2 linked regions of the Homo sapiens genome follow. The protein of the gene in region 1 interacts with the protein of each later gene in a biochemical or structural test. Each region holds a gene or a part of one and is shown in the gene's direction. Other genes may lie near its edges.

What was found. Proteins that work in one complex are often made in the same cells at the same time.
Region 2: of the proteins of CCND3 (region 1) and USP10, one has a biochemical effect on the other in vitro, tested with the Homo sapiens proteins (one study listed by BioGRID).

The regions. Positions count from the first base shown.
Region 1 is NC_000006.12:41,938,017-41,946,985, reverse strand, and holds the start of CCND3 (G1/S-specific cyclin-D3), read left to right. Parts: upstream 1-5,177; 5' UTR 5,178-5,336; coding exon 5,337-5,534; exon of another isoform or gene 5,535-5,824; coding exon of another isoform or gene 5,825-6,034; intron 6,035-6,400; coding exon 6,401-6,616; intron 6,617-7,780; exon of another isoform or gene 7,781-8,820; intron 8,821-8,969. UniProt on the Homo sapiens protein: Regulatory component of the cyclin D3-CDK4 (DC) complex that phosphorylates and inhibits members of the retinoblastoma (RB) protein family including RB1 and regulates the cell-cycle during G(1)/S transition.
Region 2 is NC_000016.10:84,759,000-84,765,999, forward strand, and holds part of USP10 (ubiquitin carboxyl-terminal hydrolase 10), read left to right. Parts: intron 1-363; coding exon 364-473; intron 474-891; coding exon 892-947; intron 948-1,172; coding exon 1,173-1,276; intron 1,277-3,989; coding exon 3,990-4,089; intron 4,090-5,086; coding exon 5,087-5,264; intron 5,265-7,000. UniProt on the Homo sapiens protein: Hydrolase that can remove conjugated ubiquitin from target proteins such as p53/TP53, RPS2/us5, RPS3/us3, RPS10/eS10, BECN1, SNX3 and CFTR.

The DNA.
Region 1 (8,969 bases):
GGCCTCCCAAAGTGCTGGGATTACAGGTGTGAGCCACTGCACCCAGCCAATTTTTGTATTTTTAGTAAAGATGGGGTTTTGCCATGTTGGCCAGGCTGGTCTTGAACTCCTGACTTCAGGTGATCCGCCCACCTCGGCCTCCCAAAGTGCTGGGATTACAGGTGTGAGCCACCGCGCCCAGCCGAAGAGTGCTCAATTTTTACTGATAGGAATGGACAAGCAAAGAGTTTTAAAGATTAATGTGAAATATTGTACAAATATTACAGATGCTCATAATAGTGACCTGGAATACTGTAAGCACCGAGATAGCTCCTTGATTCTCAAAGAAAAAAGCTAAATTATATGTAGTTTGGTTTACTGCTTTTTTTTTTTTTTTTTTTTTTTTTTTTTGAGACAGGTCTCTGTTGCCCAGGGTGGAGTGCAGTAGTGCGATCTGGGCTCACTGCAATCTCCATCTCCCAGGCTCAAACAATTCTCCTGCCTCAGCCTCCTGAGTAGCTGGGACTACAGGCGTGCGCCACTGCGTTCGGCTAATTTTTATATTTTTTTTTTGGTAGAGATGGGGTTTTACTGTGTTGGCCAGGCGGTCTCAAACTCCTGGCCTCAAGTGATCTGCCTGCCCCTGCCTCCCAACGTGCTAGGATTACAGGTGTGAGCCACCGTGCCCGGCCAACTTTGTGCTTTTAAGTCCCGCAATCACAACTAACTTTTTAAAAAAGGGTTCACCACGTGCCAGCCACTCTTCTATGTATTTTAAACAAATCAACCCATTTCCTCCTCACAACCACTCTGTGGGGGGGTACTACTGTTATCACCATTTTTAGAAAAGGAAACTGAGGCACAGAGAGGTGGTTTAACTTAGCCAAATTCACACAGTGAGGGAGTGGAGTGGCAGAGGGGTGTGGCTCCAGGCCCTGGAGGGTCCTCTCCATACGCTAGACCATGCGTTTACCGTTAGAAGCCAGGTCTTCAGGATTTGCTAGAGATGCAATTCTAGGAGTAGGGCTCTTGCTGCTCAAACTTTTGCTTTTCTTAGAGGGGTTATGGATGCATGTTCATAACAGAAAGGGTACTCCTTGAGAAAGGGAATAATAATAATCATTTCAGAAACTACTATCTCTGAATGCTTGCTTTGTGCCAGGCACAGGTAAGACATTTTCTGCTTGTTTAATTTTCAGAACATCATTATAGGGCTATTATATTATCCCCACTGGATAAAAGAGGAAGCAGAGAGGTTCCAGTAATTCTCTCAAAGTCATAAGCTGTGGAGCCAGGTTTGAACTGAAAGCAGTCTCTGACTCCAGAACCCTGTTTAGCACCCCTGTTCTCAGCCCCATGGCTCGCTTGGCTCTCCCCAGCATCTCAATGGGTCTGAAGGTAACTAAGCCATGGCATGTGGACTGTGGGGTGATGGGCCTCACCCATCACCTTGTTCAGCCTCTCACTTCTCAGATGCGGACTTTTTTTTTTGGAGACAGAGTTTCGCTCTTGTTGCCCTGGCTAGAGTGCAATGGCACGATCTCGGCTCACTGCAGCCTCTGGCTCCAGGGTTCAAGTGATTCTCCTGCTCAGCCTCCGGAGTAGCTGGGATTACAGGCATCCACCACCACACCTGGCTAATTTTTTGTATTTTTAGTAGAGACAAGGTTTTACCATGTTGGCCAGGCTGGTCTCGAACTCCTGACTTCAGGTGATCCACCCGTCTTGGCATCCCAAAGTGCTGGGATTACAGGCGTGAGCCACCGTGCCTGGCCCAGATGGGGGTATTTTGATGATGAAGAGGAAGAGAAAGAAAATGTATCTTTCCTCCTTGGGGTTTCTTATTTGGCCTGTGACATTCCATTCCCACCCCTCCTCCAATTTGCCATTTTATTGACTTTTTCTAACTGGATGTACCTGGGTAGAAACTCCTCATACTATTGGCCCTGGTCATTGCTTTGTCTTTAGTTTTCCTTTTAGAAAAACAAAAACAAAAACAAGAAAAACAAGAGGAGCCTCTATTTCTTTGAGGTGGAGGTAACTGGTGAACTTGTGCTGGTCCTGCATTGAGCTCACCTGCCTCCCCAGTGGCCAGTCCTTGGCCCTGAAAGTCAGGGATGATCTAGCTCTAGGCATGGCTATTCCATCCAGGGGTGAGGCAGAAGTATCTCTCCTAAAGTCCTGCTCACCAGGAGCTCCCGTCCCCATACTACAGGTTCACATCCAGCTTTCAGGACTAGTCAGTCTATGTGGCCCTCCCTCAATTAATAAATCAGCAACTAATTTGCCAGGTGCGGTGGTTTGTGCCTGTAATCCCAGCACTTTAGGAAGCTGAGGCAGGCAGATCACTTGAGGTCAGGAGTTCGAGACCAGCCTGGCCAACATGGTGAAATCCCGTATCTACTGAAAATACAAAAATTAGCCGGGCATGGTGGTATGCACCCGTAATCCCAGCTACTCAGGAAGCTGAGGCAGGAGAATCACTTGAAACCAGGAGGCAGAGGTTGCAGTAAGCTGCACTCCAGCCTGGTGACAAGAGCAAAACTTTGTGTCAAAAAAACAAAGAAAACCAAAAAACAAAGAAAAACACAAAAAACCCTTCTATTTGTTAAAAAAAAAAAAATCCACCGTGAACCAAAAATTAGTAAAAACAATGAACTAAAATTTTGTTTTTGCAAAATGTATGATAACAAAATGTTAAGGAAGGTCATGTGCCGTTATGGTTCACTGCAGCCTTGAACTCCTGGGCTCAAGCGATCCTCCTGCTTCGGTCTCCCTAGTAGCTGGGACTACAGGCTTGTGCCACCGCACCCAGCTTATTTTTTTTTTTTATTTTTTGTAGAGATAGGAGTCTTGCTTTGTTGTCCAGGCTGGTCTTCAACTCCTAGCTTCCAGTGATCCTCCTGCCTCAGCCTCCCAAAGTGCTGGGCTGATGGGACATTTTTATACATAGTGCCATGTTACTATAAATGAGAAGTTTTAAAAATACTGATTTTAAAAATTAATTTATGTCAAGAATTTTTATAACCAAAGTTAAAAAACCAAACAAAAAATATGAAAAGGGTTAATATCTTTGAGAGGTGATGAGAACTTATAAGTCAATAAGAGAAAACAAACATCCCTATAAATGAATAAGCTAAGGACATGAATGGGTAATGTACATAAGAAATGTAAATGTCTAGTAATATGCCAAAATAGATTTATTATTACTAATAAGCCACTTTCACTCTCTAGTTGGCAGAGTTGTTTTGAAAAATAGATATGTAATGATGGTGGAAAAGATTGGTTTAACTATTCAGCAGGAAAATTTGGCAATTAGAAGTGTATCAAAAGCCTTAGAATGTTTCATAACCTTAGATTGGGAAATTCCACTTCTAGAAATTAATTCACTTCTAGAAATAATCATGAGTGTGCACAAAGATATTACCACAAAAATATTTTACAGTATTATGTCTAATAGAGAAGAACTAGAAATAATTTAAATTTCCACCAATACAGGTTTGCCAAAATACATTTTGTACATTCACCTAATGGTATATTATGTCCCTATTACAAATTATGTCCTAGAATATTTAATAGCATGGAAAAGTGTTAACAGTATTTTTTTAATGAAAAAAGCTTACAAAACAGTTTGTGATGATTCCATTTAAAATGTGTGTTTATTCATAGAACAAAGATTAGAAAAATAAACATTGATATATTAAAGGGTTATTTCATGGCAAATTGCAAATGATTATTTCCTTTTTTTGTGGCTTATTTGTATTTTTGAAGTTTTCTACAATGTAAAAGAATATTTTATGATATGAAAACTACAATACAATTTATAATATAAGAAAGAATAATTCGGCCGGGAACGGTGGCTCACGCCTGTAATCCCAGCACTTTTGGAGGCCGAGACCGGCGGATCACGAGGTCAGGGGTTCAAGACTAGCCTGGCCAACATAGTGAAACCCCATCTCTACGAAAAATACAAAAATTAGTCAGGCATGGTGGTGCGTGCCTGTAGTCCCAGCTACTCGGGAATTGCTTGAACCCGGGAGGTGGAGGTTGCAGTGAGCCCAGATCGCACCACTGCACTCCAGCTTGAGCAACAGAGTGAGACTTCGTCTCAAAAAAAAAAAAAAAAAAAAAAAAGAATAATTAACAGAAAATGGTTAGACACTTCCTTAGTGTCTCCTAAGTCAGGAGGACCCCAGTAGGGCAGGGATCCTCATGGCCTCCTCCCATTTGGAGCATTATTGGAGGTCTTTTTCGGCCTCTTCGTCAAGTGGAATCTAGCTTCCGGTAAAACTACAAAGTAACCAAAAGTTTGGGAGGTGGAAGAAATGCAACCGGTAGATCTCACAGAGTCTGTGCAAGAAACTGATTCAATGAGAATCTAGTTTCTCCGTCCACAGTTTCTCCAAACAGAAACTAAGGCCGACTTTAGGGGCTTGTCCAAACCTAGGCAAGCAACTTAACAAGGTGAGGCCATGACTCCATGGCCTTTCCGTTCTGTTATATGCTGACTTAGACTAAAGCTCTCATACTTTAAAGTGCACAGAAATCTAGTTAAAATGCAGATTCTGATTCAGGTTAGGGGTGGGCCTGAGAGTCTGCATTTCTAACCAGCTCCCAGGCGATGACCACGCACGGGACAGGTCTGGGATCACAGTTTAACTAGCAATGGTGTAGAACACAGAATCTGCAGCAAGAAGGCCAGCTTCCCAATCCTAGCTCTGCCACGGACCAACTGAATGACAGTTGCCTCGGTTTCCGAGTTTTCGTGAAGATGTAGTGAGTCATTACATCGTGAGGCTTTCGAGCAGCGTTCACTAAGAACTAGCTCTGACATTATTTATCGCATTCCTTAGAGCAAGCAGCCGGTGAAGTAGGGTTTGACGAATGAATAAGTGAATGAATGACCTTTGGAGAAAAATTGTTTCCTGGGTGACTAGAGTCCGAGAAGCAAAATGGGAGGGCCCGTGGGTGGGTAGGAGGCCCACCTCCTAGAAAGTTCTCTGCACCCGGTGGTCCAGAGGGCCTGGAGTGCCCGGAAGCCGGCCGGCTTGCGCTCAGCGGCCCAATGGGGCCGCGGGAGGGAGGGGAGAGCGCTCAGCCAACCCTTTCCGTCCGGGGCGCCGCAGCCCCGCCCCTCGGAGCGTTGCGACGTCCGAGCATTCCACGGTTGCTACATCGTCGCGAGGGGCGGGGCGCCTGTCAGGGAAGCGGCGCGCGCGCGCGGGCGGCGGGCGGGCTGGGGATCCGCCGCGCAGTGCCAGCGCCAGCGCCAGACCCGCGCCCCGCGCTCTCCGGCCCGTCGCCTGCCTTGGGACTCGCGAGCCCGCACTCCCGCCCTGCCTGTTCGCTGCCCGAGTATGGAGCTGCTGTGTTGCGAAGGCACCCGGCACGCGCCCCGGGCCGGGCCGGACCCGCGGCTGCTGGGGGACCAGCGTGTCCTGCAGAGCCTGCTCCGCCTGGAGGAGCGCTACGTACCCCGCGCCTCCTACTTCCAGTGCGTGCAGCGGGAGATCAAGCCGCACATGCGGAAGATGCTGGCTTACTGGATGCTGGAGGTACCGCCCGGACGCGTCCCCCTCCCCCACCGCTCCCGGGTCTGGACACACCGGGGCCGCCCTGTCGGGACATCCCGGTCCCCACAGCAATCTGCAGGATGCTCCGAGGCTAAGACTCCCGGGGCCTGGCCTTTCACTAGGGCACCCACGCCAGCTGCCTCCCTTGCTTTCCCGAGCCCTAATCGGCTCCTCCCGACAGTGACTGCCAGTCACTTGGCACCCTAACTGTGCCTCTCTTCGGGCCGAGCAAACGGGACCAAGGACACTCTCTCCCCTTCGGCTTCTCACAGCGTCTCCCGCTTCCCTCCGCCTCCCGGCCTTCTCCGGAGAGCGCGCCTGGAAAACCCTGGGCTCGGCCGCCCCCGCCCGGGAGCCGGTTCCTGTGTCTTTCGCGGGGTTCTGGCGGGGAAGGCGATGGGGGTGGCGCGCGCCCTGTTCCGGCCGACAGGGAAATGAAAAGTGCAGGAGGCAGCGGCAGGAGCCTCCTCCCTTCCCCTCGGGTGTGTGCAGTGGTGGCGGTGATGGGGGTGAGGTCCCAGCTCTCTGGCTACCATGGGTGACCCTTGCGTCCCACTTCCCCTCGCTGTGGGGGAGGGGAGTCTCCGTTTGGAATCCTCCGTGAGCAAGGGCTCCTTGGCTTTACCACTCCCCCGTCAAGGGGAGAGGGGAGGAGGCCGCGCAGAGGAAGTGGGGGGCGTCACCTTGGGGAGGGCGCATCCTCCTCCTTTATTGGTCCTTGTCTCTCTAAGTAGCTTACCCTCTCTGCCGTTTTTGCTCCCTATCCCACCTCACTTCAGCGCTCCCACCCCCCCGCTGCTGTGTTCCCCACGCTCCAGACCCAGCAGTGACTGTGCGCCCTCCCCCAGGTATGTGAGGAGCAGCGCTGTGAGGAGGAAGTCTTCCCCCTGGCCATGAACTACCTGGATCGCTACCTGTCTTGCGTCCCCACCCGAAAGGCGCAGTTGCAGCTCCTGGGTGCGGTCTGCATGCTGCTGGCCTCCAAGCTGCGCGAGACCACGCCCCTGACCATCGAAAAACTGTGCATCTACACCGACCACGCTGTCTCTCCCCGCCAGTTGCGGGTGCGTGTGTAACTCCCCCCACCCCCGACACGTATTGTCTCCCCACTTTCCAGGAAAAGGAAAGCTTGAGATATCAGAGGCTTTCTGCCCCCTGGAGAGGAAGCAAGGGGATCAGGACCTTTGGGAAAGGAATTGGGGTGGAACAAACGATGGGGCATTGTGGTGTGATGGTTAGTATCACTCCCGCCCAGGCTTGAGCTGCAGGCAGGCATTAAACCCCCTCCTCCTGACCTCCAGGGGATGCCACTCCTTCCTGGTCTTTCCCCCAGATAGCAACAAGTCAAATTGCATGTCTACACTCACTAGTACTTTGCCTCTGGGTTTACGCAGCCACCATGAGTTATTTATTGGCAGCAGAAGGGCATGCCTGCACACCCCCACTGGAGTAGGGGAGTGGAATGTGCTTCATGTGGGGGAGGGGGTTTTGCCTTGGTTGAGTCTTTATCCTCATGTGGACTTTGTGATAGAAAAGCCTCCCAGAGCCAATTAAAGCCAGGCCCTGATTGCTTTAAGGAAGGGCTGATGTATTTCATCCCACCTTCTTTGCTTCCTCTTATATCCCGGAAGAAACAGCTTCTTCCTAATCCTTCCTCGTCCTCATTCTGAGGAACTGGAGCAGCTGCTTTGGGCCTGGTGGAAACAGCTCCCTCTTCCCCCCTTAGCCCAAGGCCCAAGCTGAGGGACAGACAGGGAGGTGAGCTGCATCTGCTTCCGATGTGATAATGGTGCCCCCTCCCCTGGCCCGCCCTCTCTGACCAAGGTCTTTCATAACCCTGTGGGGAGCTGCTGTCACTCCTGTGGTTTGGGAAGTGGCTCCCTGGGCCTCTTGCTGGAAACTTGGGCTGGGCTCAGGCCGGGCAGGAAAGTCACCGGTTCTGTCCCGCCTCAGAAGGAGCCTGGGGAGGAGGCGGGGGAGCTGCTGGATCTGGAAGAGGTTATTTAGGACATGCAGATTGTCTCCTAGGGAGGCTGGGGGAGAGGGTGGGTGAGCTGGCACCTTCCTCCACCTTGCTCTGTGGCGGGCCAAGTCTTCTGCTGACCCTGAGAGGAGTCTCTGGGCCCCATCTCCCAGGGAGGAGGGCAGCAAGCAGGCTGCTGTGATTGGCTGGCAGGGAAGCCAGGGTACTGGGGCCCCCGACTGCTGTGAGTCGAGGAACAGGATTCCTCTTCCTGCCAAGTAGCTCAGAGATGGGAGTAGGAGGCCAGAGTTGGGAATCCAGGAGGCGCCACAGCTCTTTGTGATGAATCTGGTAGTTTTTGGCAAGTCTGAAGGTGGAGCTAGTTTCCAGGGCCAGAGAGCAAGATGTTTTTGGAGGGGTTGGGGCTGGAAGGTAGAAGGGGAACTTCCTTTTTGTGAAAAGATGGAGGTGGTTTGTGTGCCCACGTATGAGGGTTTTTCAGTACAGGCAAAAAGTACTCTTCCCTCTGCCTGAGCTGGGGGTGGAGTGCCCAAAAGACTTCCTAGAAGGTCAAGGTTGGAAGGGACCTCTGAGAACTCCAGTTGGTCCAAATCCGTGTGCAGCAGAGGAGGCTGAGGCCCAAGGAAGGAGGGCAAGGTCCTGCCTCAGCATCGCACTGAGCAGATGAGTGTAGAACCTGGGTCTTCTAGCTAGACCAGGTTGCCTTAAAAGTCAGGAATGTGATGGCCGCTGCCACCTACTGAAGCTAAGCACTCCCAGGGGTGTGTTCTCCACCAGTTAACACTGGGATTCTCTGGTTGCCTGGATATGGGGAAAGGTGGCCACTTTCCCTCAAACACAACCCCTTGCCTCCCCATAGGGAGAGTCCCACTCCCAGTTGCCTTCCAGATGCTTCCTTAGAAGCTGAGTCCCTTCTGTTTACTGCTGAGTTAGGAGTTGGCTCCTGGGACATGCACTAGGGGTAGCGTTGTAATTTATCTGTCTCACTTCTGGCTCCAGGCCAGGCTATTTTCTCTGGGGCTCTGTGAGGGTAGGGGTTGATTTGAGAGGCTGACACCTAAGCTGGGGCCAAGAGAGAGACAGCTGTGGCTGGGGCCTGGAAGAGGTTGGGTGGGGTTGCCATTTCTGCCTCAATAAGGAGTCAAACCCACAAGTTCCTTCCTGAGATAAAACAATGAAGAAATCCTCATGTGTGCAACTCAGAAATGGGGCCAGGTCTGGGAACCCATGACGAGTGGACTGGGGTGGAGCTCCCAGCCTTCTCCCGAGACCTAGTACTGGCAGGTAGGCTTGGGTAGGTGAGGATAGGGCTTGATCCCTCTGGAATCATTTGGAGCCATCCTGTCTGGCTTGGCCTCTACCTATCCTCCTGAAAGTCAAGTGGCATGGGGCACTACGGGTTCCAGCTAAAGGGGGTGGGGTGGGGTGCTATA
Region 2 (7,000 bases), on another chromosome or scaffold:
GAGAGGATATGTTGGCACGTGAATGAGGGCTGCAGACAAGCTGGCTCTCATTAGAATAGTCACAAATAATAGGGCAGAGCAACCACTTACAACTGGAAATTTGGTTTTAACTGATTGAACTGTCTTGGTTAGGTCAAGTTCTTGAATACAAACGACTGACTGCTTCGTAGATCCTTATATGGACATCACAGGACACTTACCCTAGTAACTATTTGGTTTATTCCTTTTCGTGGTGACATATCTAAGTAGTTCAACGTCCTTAGCTTCCTTGTGTTTTTATAAACATTCTTGTGCTTCATGTGCCTTCAGGAAATGTGGTGTGTCTGTTCATTTCCTTTACGCTTCCTTACTGCCACTACATAGACACTGCAGGCATTGGTTGCTTGCCCGCCGATGTACCACCTGATGAAGTTCATTCCTCTGTATTCCAAAGTGCAAAGGCCTTGTACGTCAACACCCATGATAGACAGCTTGTAAGTAAGGTGGTGAAAGATGTGTTAAGTGGTGGGGTTTTTCCCGTCTGATAATTAGAATTGAAATAGTTTAGTAAAGCTCTTGATTTCCTGCAAATGAGTCCTATAATTCTGTCTTTTTTTAAAAATAGACTGTTGGCGATTTTATATGGAAGTTAACCAGAAATGGAATTGGAGCATTGATGATCTGTGTTCTTTAGATTCAGTAGAAAATATTTTAGCGTTTACCAGCATATATCACTTGAAATAGACCAAAAATGCATATAGAAGAGACTTGAGTTCACTAGCTGTTACAGCATTGGTTACCTAAAATCTACTATACTCGTATAGCTGATATTCTACTTAGCCATCAAAGCTCTTTAGTAAAAGTATATATTGTTTAAAACTGCACTATTTAACATTTTTTCCCCATGTTTAGTGTTCGGCTAATGAATGAGTTCACTAATATGCCAGTACCTCCAAAACCCCGACAAGGTTAGTAAAAATGAGTTTTGTTGATGCTATTACATATTGGGAGTTATGGAGACAGATGACTTAAATTTGGTAAATTCAGTCTTGTTGGGAAGATAGTGTCTTTACACCTATGCCATTCTCAACATTCAGCCAGGTGGGAGGTGGGGGAGTTTTGATGATGTTGCTTTTTTCATCATTTATGAGTTCATTGTAGTTAGGAAAACCTGTGTCCTCTTTCCATTGCAGCTCTTGGAGATAAAATCGTGAGGGATATTCGCCCTGGAGCTGCCTTTGAGCCCACATATATTTACAGACTCCTGACAGTTAACAAGTCAAGCCTGTCTGAAAAGGTTTGAGACTTCTCTGTTGTCACTAGTATCAAGTGTTGCCTTTTGTTCCAGTGTTTGTGTGGTAACTGTTGCTTATTGATATTTGCCCTCTGTCTCCAGCGCTATAAGTAGATGTAGGTTTATAAGAGTCCATTGCTTGGATGATATGGTGCACCAAGCACTGCTCTCAGTACTTTACATATATTAACTTAGTTGACTCTGAATAAAGTATGATTATGGTCTCCTTGTTACGGTTAAGAGAAGTGAAGCCACTGTCTGAGGTCAGGTAGCTAATGTACATGGCAGAACCCAGCTTTCAAGTCAGTTCTCTTAACCACTGCACTATATGCCACTGGGGTAGAATGGAGTGCACTGGGCCTGGAATGATGGCAGTATTCAGAAGAGCTTATGTCTTCATCATACTTACAGGCTTTAGTAGCTATTTGATGTACTTGATTCCTTTACCTAATTTTTTTTTAATCACATACTTTGTTACTAAAGGCATGAGACCAAGGGGCCAGGGAGCCCTTATAAAAGGCCCTGGGGCTGTTGAGAGTGACTTGGGCCGCCCTTAGCACCGTTAACTGGAGCATTTCTTTCCTCCCAGATTGAGTTTGTGATGAATCAGTACAAGCAGTTGAAATGATGCTTAGGGAAATGTATTCAGAGAGAAAAATAGTTGAGAAAATGCCATTTAAGTCAAGTTTACTTGAAGCTTCATTGCTTTGAAGAAGAGTGAATGTCGAGGGCATCGTTGCAGGATACCACCAGGGGTAGCATAGGGTCTTAAGCTTTTTAAATGCTTATAATGCAGCTTTTGGTATTGGCTTGGAATTTGCACTTCCCAAGTAATGGGAACATGGTGTTAGGGATGCAGAAATGGAATGAAGTGCGCCCTCTGCCCTCAGTGAGGGAATGAGTTAATGAATAGTCAACAAGAGAAGCACAAAGATACAGAGATGCCTTAGAACCCAGAGGGGCCCACCTAGCACAGGTGGAGGCAAAATAAAGTGGGTGCTCAGGAACCCCTCTTGGATCGTGCACAGAGATAATGCTATGAACAAAAGCATCTTCTAAAGGTTACATTAATAGGGGATGTGTTGGGCTCCCCAAGACCACCCTGAGGTTGGGTGATTCACTGGAAGAACTCAGAAAATGCAGAAGCTGGTATACCCGTGGCTATGGTTGCTGACAGCAAAAGCATGCGGAGCAGAGTCAGGAAGGGAAAGGACAGGTGAGGCAGGGCCTAAAGGAAACTTCCAGACTCCTCTCCCAGTGGGGCCACAAGGCTACGCGTAACTACTCCAGCACCAGACTGTGACCACACGTGAAATGCTGCCAACCAGGGAAGGTCATTACAGACTCCGTGTCCAGAGTTTTTACTGAGGGCTGGTCCCATAGGTACCATCTGCCTGGCTTGAACCAAAAGTCCAAACTCCCAAAACAAAAGCAAAGTGTTCAGCAGAAAGCACATTGCTTGCGCAAACGGTTTAGGCAGAATCCCGTATCAGTTATTGGACCGATGGGAACCTTTCTGAAATCCAAATTCCCAGACACCAGCCAAGGGGCAACCTTGCAAGCAGGCCTTTCCAAGGAGAGCCACCCAGGCCTGCTATGAAAAGTCTTCAGCACACTTTGGCTGTGCCAGTTTTTGCCCTTTTCTGCACACGTGCAGAGCATGCACTCACGTGAACAGCTGCTGTCCACGTCTACTATCTGGAGAGGGCAAGTAAACTTTGCAGTTTACCTAGATGCTTCAAACAGAACAATTTGCAGGGCCTTGGAATAGGCAGTTGTGCTGTGAAGAATGAAATATGAACTGATGATAAGTAACAGAATCAAACACTCGTGATGTGGGATTATTAAACTCTTGGGTGACTCGTCTGTGAATGATTTTGCTGATGTATGTGTAACACAGCTAACGCTCTAAATCAGTGGAGTTTTTCCACATGTAGTTTGAGTTCTTTCCCATGTAGTTGTCCATCATCAAAGACAGACAGAAGCAGACATAGGGCTGCTTAGCTCATTGCTCGAGTGGTGACCCTTGCAGTTGAACAGTGAACTGGCCCTAGACATCTAGTTCTTCGTCTTCTATTTTGTTTACCCAAGACAGAAACTTTTTTTTAAATAACTTTTTTGTGATAAAGGTAATGTGGCCAGGTGTGGTGGCTCATGCCTGTAATCCCAGCACTTTGGGAAGCCAAGGCAGGCAGGTCACCTGAGGTCAGGAGTTTGAGACCAGCCTGGCCGACATGGTGAAACCCCGTCTCTACTAAAAATACAAAGATTAGCCAGGCATGGTGGCACACACCTGGAGTCCCAGCTACTCGGGAGGCTGAGGCAGGAGAATCGCTTGAACCCGGGAGCTGGAGGTTGCACTGAGCTGAGATTGCACCACTGCACTCCAGCCTGGGTGACGGAATGAGACTTTGTCTCAAAAAAAAAAAAAAGTATATTTATTGAAGAAAATTTCAAAAATACAGAAAGTATAAATAATAAAAATCCCCATTAGTCCACCCATTTAGAGATATGTGTTTAGTCAGTTTCTCCTTTTCCTCCTACTCTTGGGATTTCAGCTATGCAAGGGAAACCCATGTCATCATGTCATTGTTTGGAAATACTTTACATCTTCCATTTCAGAGGAGGCATGGTTGGACTTTGCAAGTACTGCATGTCCTGCAGGCCTTTGACAGTGATCAGTTCACAGTAACGTGATTATATTTGACCTTTTCAGGGTCGACAAGAAGATGCTGAGGAATACTTAGGCTTCATTCTAAATGGACTTCATGAGGAAATGTTGAACCTAAAGAAGCTTCTCTCACCAAGTAATGAAAGTAGGTTATGGTCCACTTGCCGCAGAGTTGTGCAAGAGTTCGCTGTAAACAGGTGTTGCATACTCATATGTTATGTTGCTTCCCTGCCCCTCAGTCGTTTTCCTTTCAAATAGCATTTATTCCCTACGATAACTTACACCATCGAGAAGGTTATATTTAGGTAAATTACAGTTTATCCCGAACCTCTGCCATTTTCCTTTAACTTTTAATTAGGAAAATGATCAAGCCTATAAAAAAGCTGAAAGAATCGTTTGATGAATACCTTTATAATTGCCGAGTGTACAGTTTTAAACATATTTTCTGATGCTATACACACACTGTGTATATATATATATGTCTTATCTGTCCATCCATATATACATACATACGCATACATTTTCCCTGAATGATTCAAAGTTAAGTTGCAGCTAACAGTTTAGTTCATCTCAGGTGCTAAAGCATCTCCTGCGTAACCACAGTCCCTTATCTAACTGAGAAAAACAACTGTAATGACACGGTAATACCGACTTTGCAGAGCATCTTCAAATTTCGCCAGTTGTCCCAGGGATGTCATTTCTAGGAGTTTATGTAAACAAGGATCCAGTGGTGGTGCACCTGTTGCGATTGGTTGCCGTGGATCAAGTGGCATTGCAATGGGTTGCAGTGGATCCAGTGGCATTGCGCCTGTTGTGATTGGTTGCCGTGGATCCAGTGACGTTGCACCTGTTGCGATTGGTTGCCGTGGATCCAGTGACGTTGTGCCTGTTGGGATTGGTTGCCATGGATCCAGTGACGTTGCACCTGTTGCGATTGGTTGCCGTGGATCCAGTGACATTGTGCCTGTTGCGATTGGCCGTGGATCCAGTGACGTTGCTCCTGTTGCGATTGGTTGCCGTGGCTCCTAATGTAGACCACACCCTGATTTCATTTTTAAAACTGCAATCGACAGATCTGTGCCTTTTTTTTTTTTGCTGTTCTTGTCGTAAATAGTAGTGTAAGCAGATGCTCTCCTTTTCAGAACTTACGATTTCCAACGGCCCCAAAAACCACTCGGTCAATGAAGAAGAGCAGGAAGAACAAGGTGAAGGAAGCGAGGATGAATGGGAACAAGTGGGCCCCCGGAACAAGACTTCCGTCACCCGCCAGGCGGATTTTGTTCAGACTCCAATCACCGGCATTTTTGGTGGACACATCAGGTTTGTGCTTTTCTGGAATAACTTAATATTTGCCTTTTCTAGGGTTTTGCCATGTTGGTGAAGGGGGAAGGTGTGAGGCTTGTTTTGAGACTTCTTGGACGTAATGGTTTGCATCTTGCTCCCCTGCCTGCTCTTCTCTTGCACTTCCTGATGCTTCCCTTGTCAGCCCCCGTGGCTTATTCTCTCCCTGCTGGCGCATGTCTGCAGGGGACAGGGAGCTCCTCCCTTCTACTCTGTCAAGTTCAGCTGCTCACTGCTAGGGAGTAAGAGAAAAGCCAGCTAATTGGCCATACGCGGTGGTTCATGCCTGTAATCCCAGGACTTTGGGAGGCCAAGGCGGGTGGATCACCTGAGGTTAGAAGTTCGAGATCAACCTGATCAACATGGTGAAACCCCGTCTCTACTAAAAATACAAAAATCAACCAGGTGTGGTGACAGGCACCTGTAATCCCAGCTATTAGGGAGGCTGAGGCAGGAGAATCGCTTGAACCCAGGAGGCAGAGGTTGCAGTGGCCCAGATAGCGCCATTGCACTCCAGCATGGGTGACAGAGTGAGACTCTGTCTCAAGAAAAAAAAAAGAAAAAGATACAGGAGAATGTCATCATGACTTAGGGGTAGGCAAAGGTTTCATAAGATAGGTCATAAACAATAACCACGAGAGAGAGAGAAAAAAAAATATATATATATATATTAGACTTCATCTGCATTTAAAACTTGCAACATAAAACCACCTCCGGGAGGCAGAGGTTGCAGTGAGCCAAGATTACACCACTGCACTCCAGCCTGGGTGACAGAGCAAGACTGTCTTCAAAAAAAAAAACCAGCTAACCAAACCATGTGTTTTGGTAAGAGAAGACAGTGTATCTGGAGGAATTTTATTTATGTTAATAAATTGTGTATATTTAAAGTATACACAGATGTTATGAAATAGAGATAGTAAAATAGTTGCTACAGTGAAGCAGATAAACATATTCCCCATCACAGTTACCCTTGTGTGTGTGTGTGTGCACATGGCAAGAGCAGCTGCAGTTTTACTCATTTCACAAAAGTCCCAAATACAGTGCACTATGAGTAGCTCTTGTCCGATGTTCCACATCAGATCTCTAGACCTGTTCGCCTGTGTGGCTGCCCTTGGTGTCCTTCGACCGACATCTTCCATTCCCACTCGCCACCCCTAGGAACCACTCTTTTCCCTATCTCTGTAGTTTCGTCTTTTTTTTTTTTTTAATAAAGATTCCATGTATAAGTGAGACCATGCAATATTTTTCTTTCTGTGTCTGACTTCTTTAACTTAGTATAATGTTCCCCAGGTTCATTCCTGTTGTGGCAAATGGCAGGGTCTTTATTACAGCTGAATAGTGTTCCCTTGTCTATATATACACACCACAGTTTCTTTATCCATTGGCCCATCCACAGACAGTTGTTTCCCTGTCTTGGCTGTTGTGAACTGATTGGAAGCAGGTGAGGTAGAAAGTGAAGAGAGTGTGAAGGGAGGTCTTTTTTACACAGACAGACCCGTGACTGGGCTGGAGTCCCTGGGCACCTGGCTGTGTGCCAGTTCCCTTAAGCAGCTTTTTGCTCATTCACAAAGTCCTTCGGAAAGGTTTTTCTTTATTTACCTGAGAGCTTTTCAGTACCACTGTGATGTGGAATTCAGCAAAACTTGTACCATCTCCAAGAAGGTTTACCCATCGAAAGTACTGAAGAGGCCTCATTGGAGCCTAATTTCCTTTCT